3 separate regions of the Homo sapiens genome follow, and regions 1 and 2 are each reported to be linked to region 3. Evidence: microRNA targets listed by miRTarBase, many of them from high-throughput screens and not tested one by one. Region 3 holds a microRNA gene; each other region holds the end of a gene's coding sequence. Distances are from middle to middle.

Evidence for each region. Region 3 holds the annotated microRNA hsa-miR-670-5p (GUCCCUGAGUGUAUGUGGUG, at 2,096-2,115, shown strand). A microRNA usually pairs through its seed, bases 2 to 8, with sites in the 3' UTR of a target mRNA and lowers its output. Matches are read on the target gene's strand: a 7mer-m8 pairs with bases 2 to 8, a 7mer-A1 pairs with bases 2 to 7 and ends in A, and an 8mer does both.
Region 1: miRTarBase lists PPP1R37 as a target of hsa-miR-670-5p. Seed matches in the 3' UTR shown: 7mer-m8 at 2,114-2,120.
Region 2: miRTarBase lists EIF1AD as a target of hsa-miR-670-5p. Seed matches in the 3' UTR shown: 7mer-m8 at 243-249.

Annotation. Positions count from the first base shown.
Region 1 is chr19:45,145,860-45,149,205 of GRCh38, reverse strand. It overlaps PPP1R37 (protein phosphatase 1 regulatory subunit 37), which reads right to left. Exons shown (of 13, transcript NM_019121.2): 11 at 3,157-3,346; 12 at 2,726-2,816; 13 at 1,921-2,635. The coding sequence ends at 2,734. Among named protein-coding and RNA genes, the nearest start is that of NKPD1, 13 kb to the left of the region's middle.
Region 2 is chr11:65,995,814-65,998,813 of GRCh38, reverse strand. It overlaps EIF1AD (eukaryotic translation initiation factor 1A domain containing), which reads left to right. Exons shown (of 6, transcript NM_001242481.2): 6 at 71-2,269. The coding sequence ends at 215. Among named protein-coding and RNA genes, the nearest start is that of EIF1AD, 4.8 kb to the left of the region's middle.
Region 3 is chr11:43,557,580-43,560,925 of GRCh38, forward strand. MIR670 (microRNA 670) reads left to right here and starts at 2,077; the gene lies at 2,077-2,174. It also overlaps a transcript of HSD17B12 not described here.

The sequences.
Region 1 (3,346 bases), not on the chromosome of region 3:
GTACTGGAGGTAAGGACTTTAAAGATCTTTTTTTGGCCAGGCGCAGTGGCTTACGCCTGTAATCCCAGCACTTCGGGAGGCCGAGGTGGGCAGATCACGAGGTCAAGAGATTGAGACCATTCTGGCCAACATGTTGAAACCCCGTCTCTACTAAAAGTACAAAAATTAGCTGGGCGTGGTGGTGCACGCCTGTACTCCCAGCTACTCGGGAGGCTGAGGCAGCAGAATTGCTTGAACCTGGGAGGCGGAGGTTGCAGTGAGCCGAGATTGCGCCACTGCACTCCAGCCTGGCAACAGAGCGAGACTCCAGCTCAATAAATAAATGAATAAATAAATAAACAAACATCTTTTTTTGTGGGAGACACAATTCAACCCCCAACAGTAAGAAAGGCCCAGTTCCTCACTCCAAGCTCAATTTAGTGAAAGCAAATCAAGGGACAGGCTGGGAAGAGGATCCCTGTCCCTCCCCTAGCATACCTCACATGGGGTGGGGAGGCAGACGGCCAGCGGGCTGGGTGAGACCCCAACACAGCTGCCTCCACAGAGGCTGAGACCATGAGCAACGGCTAATATCGACCAAGGGCCTCTGAAGATCGTTGGGGCACTGTGCTGACCCAAACCAGGCGAAGGACAGAGGTCTCTCAGTACCTTGATGCAAACACCTCACATGCCCCGGCCCCTCACCAAGACGGGCTGGATCCACAGTGGCCAGGAGGGGGCCCCTTCTTCCCTTCACCCATGGCCACATCGCACATTAGCAGAGCTGGGGACAAGCTGGCTGTGCAGGGATGGGAAGAGTGCTGCGGGCTGCTGGCGGCTGTTCTGTGTAGCTTCCCTAAGTCCCTCGCCCAAATAAGAGTCCTAGCCGTGGCTGACCTGGGGAGCAGTTAGGACACTTACAGCTGCAAGGGACCAAACAGCAAACCAGCAGTGGCTTCCTAAGGTGTTCCTCCCAGAGGCCAGGGTGGCTGGGGGCAGGGGACTCCCTGGTGTGTGCAGGAGCTGAATGACACCAGGGCTCCAGCCTGCGACTGTGGTTCTCGTGATGTCACCACAACGCCTCCATCCATGTCAGCCTCCCACACGGGAAACAAGGGGATGGGTGGCCCAGAAATGCTCGTTTAGTAATTTTTTTTTTTTTTGAGACAGGATCTCACTCTGTTGCCCAGGCTGAAGTGCAGTGGTGCAATCACACCTCACTGCAGCCTCAACCTCCTGGGTTCAAGCGATCCTCCCAACTCAGCCTCCTCAGTAGCTGGGACTACAGGCACACGCCACCACACCCAGCTAATTTTTGTATTTTCTATGGAGATGGGGTTTCACCATGTTGCCCAGGCTGGTGTCAAATTCCTGGGTTCAAGCAATCCTCCCACCTCAGCCTCCCAAAGTGCTGGGATTACAGGTGTGGGCCACCATGCCCGGCCTGCTCCCCCCTTTCCTAAAGGGAAAAACAGACCTCTCAGAAATCCGCAACAGCACCCCCATGGCCCCCCAGGCCCCTGCTGGCAAAGGGGAACAAGCCGCCCACCAGGCTCCTGCAGTGCTGGCTGGGCCCGGGGCATACTCCCACCTGCACAACACCTGGGGCTGCCAGGGACAGGCTGGGATCTGTTCCTGTTGAGCGATGGGCGACTGGGCAGAGCCACTCCATATCCAGCATCCTGAGACCCTAGACCTGAAGCCAGGAGGTATCTGGGGCCTGTCTCTCCCTGCAGAAAGGATGGGTGTAAACTCGCCTGGCTGGGAGGTGACCGTACGAGACACCAGAGCATGGATGCAGAATAGACGGGACTGTGGGGGAAGACGCAGTAATGCCTGACCAGTGCCCTGGCAGATGCTCTGTAACCAGGAGCTGTGATGGCCTCCACCCAGCCCACCCCCAGCAACCACCTCCAGGATCCGCACGAAGCAGACGTTGGGCAAAGTGAACCCAGCCCCAGTTTATTAGAAAAGGTGTGAACAGAGTTGCACCGACAGGAGTAGCCCCAGCCCTCTGCCCACCCTCACCCACACCCATGCCACTCGCCCCCAAAGGGCTGTAGTGCCTCTCAGGGCGCAGCCTCCAGTGGCCTGGACAGCAGGGTCCCGGAGTGCCGGCTGCTCCCGCCCCAGCTCCCTGATAGATTTATTGCACTTGAGAAAAAGAAAGCTCTGATCCTCTGCTCCCATCCCCCCACCCTGCCCGGCCTGCGCTGTCTGGGGCTGTTCTGTGCATCTCAACCACCACCAGCACGCACCGCCTCTCCGGCACCAGGCTGCCTGCCCGGCCCTGTGCCCGGGGCCACAGGGGACCATCCCACCACCACCCAGGACGCCTGCCCTCCGCAGGGCAAGCCTGGCCCCTCCAGAACAGGCGCCTGATGTCCTTGGAGACCTCCTCCTCCTCCTGCTCCCCCTCCTCCCATTCACCCCCAGAGTCTTCCAGTGCTGGGCTCATAAATAGAAGTGCTTGAGTCACGCGCGGAGGGCCACTCCCTGTAGCTCCTGCACCCCTTGTAGTGTTGCTGTGGGGGGAGGGGGGCCCCAGAATGGCCCCCACCCCTGGCATCCTGGGCCTCAGGAAGGCTGGGGGGAAGGTGAGCAGATTCTCATGGCTCTGGCCTCAGCTCATCGCAGACCGACCGGAAAAAGGGAACTTGGGGAGGAGAGATTGGGGGAGAGACTGTCAGAGCCAGAGGCTCTCTCAGCTCCTCCCGAGTGCTGTGGGCCCCGGGCCTGGCCTCACCTAAAGTGTCACAGTGTCTCCTGCCCGGATTCCTGACTGGCTTCCAGAAGCAGCTCCTCGAGCTCCTTCTCGTTCTTGGAGCAGCTCAGTTCTGTGTGGGAGGACGGGCCAGCACCCCCGTCAGGCGGGTGGGGCAAATACAACCTGTCCCCAGCCCGGCCCCAGCCAGACCCTCAGGGCCTGCAGAGTGCCCAGAGACCGCTGAGATGGTCAGGCTCAAGGCAGCACACCTTACATGCCCCCCCACCCCAGGAAGAGCTCCCAGGACCCAAGGGAAGCAGGGTGGAGATGAGAACTAAGCCCCACTTTGCTGGCCCCTGCGAGAACCATTTTAAAGAGGGGGAAACTGAGGTCCACAACAGGCAGGGGCTTGCCTGGGGTCACATACAGCACCCAGGGCCCCTCAACACCTGCCCTAGGGCCCCTCTCACCGTGCTCCAGGCCGCAGCTGCCCCCCTTGACCTCAGGCCCCGGGGGCGGCTCAGGGGGCAGTGCCAGGGCGAACTCGGGCTTCAGGCCGTTGGGCAGTGGTGGCCCTGACCGAGGCGGCTCCGGTGGTGGCTGAGGCTCAGAGGACCCTGTGTCCCGGGTGTCAATGGCCCCGGCTGGTGGTAGGGAAGG
Region 2 (3,000 bases), 22 Mb from region 3:
AACTCCTTGATTGTAGATATTATTTTCCCAGAAGGCGCTGGGCTAACCCTGCTCTCTTCCCTTCGTGCAGACAAACTCAACCAGAACTCCCAGCTGAGCCACAGTTATCAGGAGAGGAGTCCAGCTCAGAAGATGATTCTGACCTGTTTGTTAACACAAACCGCAGACAGTATCATGAGAGTGAGGAGGAGAGTGAAGAGGAGGAGGCAGCCTGAGACTCCAGGACCCAATTCTCCACTTGCTCAGGGACTGGCCCCTGGCTCTTCTGGGCTTGGACATTCCCAGGGTGCTCTGCACATCTTCACCCCTGCATGAGGACAAAGCAGGGCTCCTCTCTGAACTGATCTTTTGATTCAGAGAATTAAACCCCTGGTGGGTTGGTGACTTGTTCTGGTGTCTGAGTGGCTCTCTCGGGGGAGGGAGATTGTGATGAAGTGAAAAACTGCTCCCTATTTATTAGAGACCTTGTGGGTGGGTGGGCTGAATGGGGAGGAAATGGGAAATGGCTGGAGTCTTTCCCAGGTGGTTTGTTCTTTCTTATTGGGCACTTAGAAAGTGCCAGGCCGTGCTCTGGGCCTTCTTGCATGTGTTTAACAGCTGGGAGCACTCCTGCTTCCTTGCCTGCTTGCAGTTCATACCAATTTAAGCATTCAGGATGACAGCCCTAGGACCTAACACCCACCTGCCTCTAAGAGACGCTCAGGAGCCCATGGTGCCTCGTGCTGTTCTCCCCGCCTTTCTAGTCACCCTGTGTACGGGAGTGCTCACCTCCAGCTACTGTGTCCATCCCCACATACGACCTCATCTCTCCCACTCTGCACCATCTATCACTTCCAGAAGGTGGCTGGCAAATCTCTCTATCCTTAACTTTGTTTTGAATGGTCCATCCATCTCCTGACTTTATTTGAAACCTGATTATTCCCTGAGGACATTGATTGTCTTATAACCTTTTAAATAGAGGCTGCTTTTCCACCCTCACCCTTCATTCTTCTAACCAGCCCTGACATTCTCATGAGTAACCTTCTGCCTTCACTTCCCTCTTGTGTAGCATCAATTCCGTAGTCCACCCTACACCCCTCTGTCTCCCTCCATTCTGTTCCGCTAGTAAAACCCTAACCCTGGGTAAACCCAATCATTCACCTCTGTGCCCAAACCCAAGTCACCATCATTAGGTGAGAAAACAGCCAGCCTGGCCACCAGTTGTACCTTACGTTTATCATTACAAACCTCAGATGGACACTAAGCACTGCCCAGCAGATCTACTCTGGGATGTCTGTTTCAAAACTTCTGTCTTATCTATCAATTCCCCCTTGTGGTAGTTACCACAACACATGCCTCATTAAGAAACAGCAACCATCAGAGGGAATGCCTGCCTCCCTGTTACCAGCTCTGCAGATGTGCACATATCTTCCTGTCGTAAGCCAATGGGACTTAAACCTTACCTCTTGTGTTTTGGAGACTATCTTTTTTTTTTTTTTTTTTTTTTTGAGAGAGTGTCTCCCTGTGTTGCTCAGGCTGGAGTGCAGTGGTGTGATCTCGGCTCACTGTAACCTTCACCTACTGGGTTCAAGTAACTCTCCTGCCTCAGCCTCCCGAGTAGCTTGGACTACAGGCGTGCACCACCACACCTGGCTAACTTTTTGTATTTTTAGTAGAGACGGGGTTTTGCCATGTTGCCCGGGCTGGTCTCGAACTCCTGACCTTAAATGAGCCTCCTGCCTCAGCCTCCCAAACTGCTGGGATTACAGGCGTGTGCCACCATGCCTGGCTAATTTTTATATTTTCAGTAGAGACGAGGTTTTGCCATGTTGGCCAGGCTGGTCTCGAACTCCTGACCTCAAGTGGTCCACCCACCTTGGCCTCCTAGAGTGCTGGGATTACAGGTGTGAGCCACTGTGCCCGGCCTCTTTTGCTTTCTTAAAGACTTTGGTCGGGTATTTGTGTTGTTGAGTATTGTGTCTGGGTGTGGGTATTTGATTCTTTTTTTGTTTTGTGTTTTTGGCTGTCCTGTCTATTGGATGTGATATGTTATGGATGTGATGTGTTAGTGTCGAGCGTGCTGTAGAATCTCCCATTTCTGAAACAGGCGTGAAAACCTGTACTGATTCCCACGTCCTCCAGCTACCACTTCATTTGTCTGTTTCTCATTTACTTTCTCTTATAGCGTGGCTTTAAACATATATACATTTGTATATATGTATATATGAATATAATGTATAAAATGTATGTAGATGTATATACAAAAAATAAACGAGATGGGTTAAAGATATGTATGTGTGTGTATCTATCTTTAATTCATCTGAAGTTTGTTTTTTCTGAGAGGTAGCAAACTTTCCCTAAAGGGAAAGTCACTTGTCCCTGTACTATTTCTTGAAAGGTTCATTCTTTGCTCACTGGAAATATTTCTTTTTTTTTTTTTTTGAGACGGAGTCTCGCTCTGTTGCCCAGGCTGGAGTGCAGTGGCGCCATCTCGGCTCACTGCAAGCTCTGCCTCCCGGGTTCACGCCATTCTCCTGCCTCAGCCTCCTGAGTAGCTGGGACTACAGGCACCCACCACCACGCCCGGCTAATTTTTTGTATTTTTAGTAGAGATGGGGTTTCACCGTTGTTAGCCAGGATGGTCTCAGTCTCCTGACCTCGTGATCTGCCTGCCTTGGTCTCCCAAAGTGCTGGGATTACAGGCATGAGCCACCACGCCTGGCCAGAAATATCTTTTAAAACATAAATTCCTGCATATATATGGATCTTTTTTGGAATTTCTAATCTGTCCTATTGATCCGTGTGCCCATACTGCATTTTTTTTTTTTTTGAGACAGTCTTGCTTTGTCACCCAGGCTGGAGTGCAGTGGCGTGATCTCAGCTCGCTGTAACCTCCGCCTCCCAGGTTCAAGCGATTCTCCTGCCTCAGCCTCTCCATAGCTGGGACTACAGACACTTGCCACTACACCCGGCTAATTTTTGTATTTTTAGTAGAGACGGAGTTTCAACTTTTATTTTTTT
Region 3 (3,346 bases):
TAAATGTTTCCGTTGCAAGAGCAAAAACTGCTACAGCTCACAACCACCTGTAGAGGGAAATCTTTATGCATGATATCTTAAGGGCTGGTTGTGTAGAGGAAAACCGCCTGAAAAGGCTCCTGACAAAGTTTGCAGCAGGAAAGACAAGAGATACTGAGCCCTGCAGGGTGAAGGGTTAAAACTCGGGGGCGGCAGAGAAGGAGGGAACGGCTGGAGCTCAGCCAGGGTCTGTCAGTCTGGGGACTTACAGGGTTGGCCTTCCTGCTTTGAGGGGCTGGTGCTGTAACGGGGGGGAGCCTGAGGTGGAGAAGCTAAATGGGGCAGGGGCTTGCAGAATACTTGTGTGTCGTGGAAGGAGGGGCGTTCTATGAGGTCAGAGATCGTATGGTGCTTGGGGCCATGTGACGATAGGGAGGTCACAGGCCAGTTTTTCCGTTGGGTTCTGGTCCTCCCAGTTCCTCCCTGCTGCTGCACAAAGCGAGGTGGTTATCAACAAGTGTTTCTCCTGAGAAGATTAGTTTTGACAGGGACTTCAAGGGGTTTTTTAATCTGGGTAAATCCACCAGGGCTTTATTGTGTGTAGCAAAGAGAGTCATTCTTTGTTAGGAAGGAGCTTGGGGAAGAGAGGTGGAGGGGTGGAGAGAGGGGGCTTTTGAACATCAGCCATTTGACCTTGGGGGCCAGAGTTCAAATCCCCCAGAGGTCTGAAAAGGTTGAAAAGATATCATTATCCCTTCTCCCTCCCCCGCGTCTTTCACCCAGAGCTTTATGTTTAACGGGGAAAATCCAGCGCCTGGTGTTGGCCAAACCTCATCAATGGGAATTCCATGTGTCTGAGAGCAGGATTTTTTTTTTCATCGAGGGAAGCAGGCAGCACTCTCAGCTGTAGTACTGTACATTTTTTTCCCCCTGCAAATCATCTTCTAGGAAAGCTGAATCACCTCCACTCTGAAGAGCAGCCACTTCTGGGAGGTGGAACACAGGGGGAGGAGGGAATACCCCCTCCTCCATGGTCCTTAAATATCCGTGTGGGGGCACTACTTGAATGTCTGGTTCAGATGAGCCTGGAAATATGACGAGGGTTCTTTGGACTGGGCTGGTAGTTGAGAAGACCATCTGAGCGGGGATGTAATTCTGAAGGAGTAAGGTAGTGGCTTTTTCTTTTGCGCTGGGGGTGCGGGGGCGGAGGGGTGCAGCTGGCTGGGTCATCAAATTAACATGAGAAGGGAATCGTTTTCAGCAGGGAAGTAGGAGATTTGGGGAGGGTGCTTGGAAGATAGAATCAGCATGCTATTGCCACCCCCCACCCCAAATAACCAAAAGGCAAGGAGTACAGACATAGAAATGGGAAGTGAAATGTTGGTATAGACTGTGATTAAGCCTGCTGTTGGTATGAAGTGCTGTCTCACTAAATAAAGCAGAGTGGATGGTGGCTGCATCCCTGGATCTGCCGGTGTGAAGTAAAACCAGGTCAGCTGGCCTGACACCCACTGTCCATATCACTGAAGGTCCTGCTCCAAGAAGGGGGATGGAGAGTCTTCCACAGCCCGGAAAGCATCAGGTTTCTTTGTGTTGCACTTCTCAGAAGGAAATTGTTTCTGTTTATTGCTTAAGTCAACAAGTATTTGTCTCCCTTTGATATAAATGCTGTGGGGGAAGTGGTTACAAGAAAAAAAAATCTGGTCCTGGAATTATAGCCATCTGCTCTCCACAGTCCTCCAAGACTGTCAGTATCTCTCTTTACTCTGAGCTGTGGTCTTCTAGGGACCAAGTTCCAGAAGAATAGCACCTAAAAAGTATTTCATGTCCATCAGCCTTCCCCGGAGATCCATGGAAAGACCACCTCTCTCAGGTTCTACCAGGTGCCCAAGCACTTGTCACATGCAGACATGTATGTGCAGTGTACATGCACATATATGTGCAAAAACCACAACAGTATGCATGTGGGTACCCAGGGTTCTCTCCACATGAGAACCCACGAGAGCCCACGTCAGCTCATGAGCCACATACACAAGGAAACAGACCTTCTTCCTCTCTGTCAAGTCCGAAGATGCCAGCTGAGACGTTCTTCATCCAGTTTAGGGGTGGACCTGATGTCCCTGAGTGTATGTGGTGAACCTGAATTTGCCTTGGGTTTCCTCATATTCATTCAGGAGTGTCAGTTGCCCCTTCACGCGACGTTGGAGAGCATTACAGCAAGCAGGTGTCTACTCATTTATGGCAAGAATGAAGTCCGACTTTTATCTTCATCACCTTGGATGAGCCCTGGTGCTTGCCCTGTTTCTCAAAAGAAACCTAAGGGCAGGGGCAGAACTGGTTATAGAATTCATGGAACCTGGCACAAAATGAACACGTAGGGCCCCTTGTTCAAAAAGCAGGAAGAAAGTGCCTAAATATAATGCCTTTGTCTTTCTTCCACAATCTCTCTCTAGAATCGTCATGGTGGTTTTTTATTTGCTGTTTTTCATGTGGTGCTAAATAAAAATAAAAATTTTAAATTTTTAGCATGAATTTTACCGTTCATCTTTATATTGTGTGATGCCAGTTGTAAATGTAAACACAAGAGCGTTTAACTCATTTGTAGAATCACTGAAATTACACAATTCACATTTCATATGTCGCATATGCATAGGTATTTCATTCTTACCAGAACAATGGAGATGCTGACAAAATGAACTCCAGTGTTTTTATTTCACTTCTTGATACAAGCGCTTTGTACCAGCACTCTCCACCTTCAGCTTGCTGTTGAGGAGAAATAGCTATGGATTGCTCTATCTTCACCTTTCCTTCTGTGTCAACATTTTCAGCATAGGTGTTTGGCAAATACAGGGAAGGAACATAAGTAAGAAATGCTACTTTAGGGTCCCTTAGGCATTAGTGTTTCTTAGAACTCTATTGCCTTCCTTCTGCATTTGAAGCATCTGGTTCAAACAGAAAGCATGACCTCTGGGCACTGTCTGTGTCCCCCGTCTGTGTAGTCATAGGCTTACTTTCCATTCTACTTGCCCCGAGTCTCACTGAGCTCCCACTGGAATTCTGTACGCATGGGCTACTGCCAACATTGTGGGACAGGAACGATGGATGGGCACACACATTCTCTATTATCCCATAGACTTCACTTACAAAACACGGGTTCAAAGACAAAATTTTTAAGAATTTCAAGACAATAACAGTAGAATCTTAAACCAACCATGGAGCTCTTCTGAGCCAAGGGCCCTGCAACTACACAAGTTGCACGCTCCTGAAGTCAATCCAGGTGGGAGGAAGTAAGAAGTAACCTAGACTTCAGGCTGAGAACCCTATTACTCATCTTCCTTCGTCAAGCGAATAATTGAATCCGCAGCAA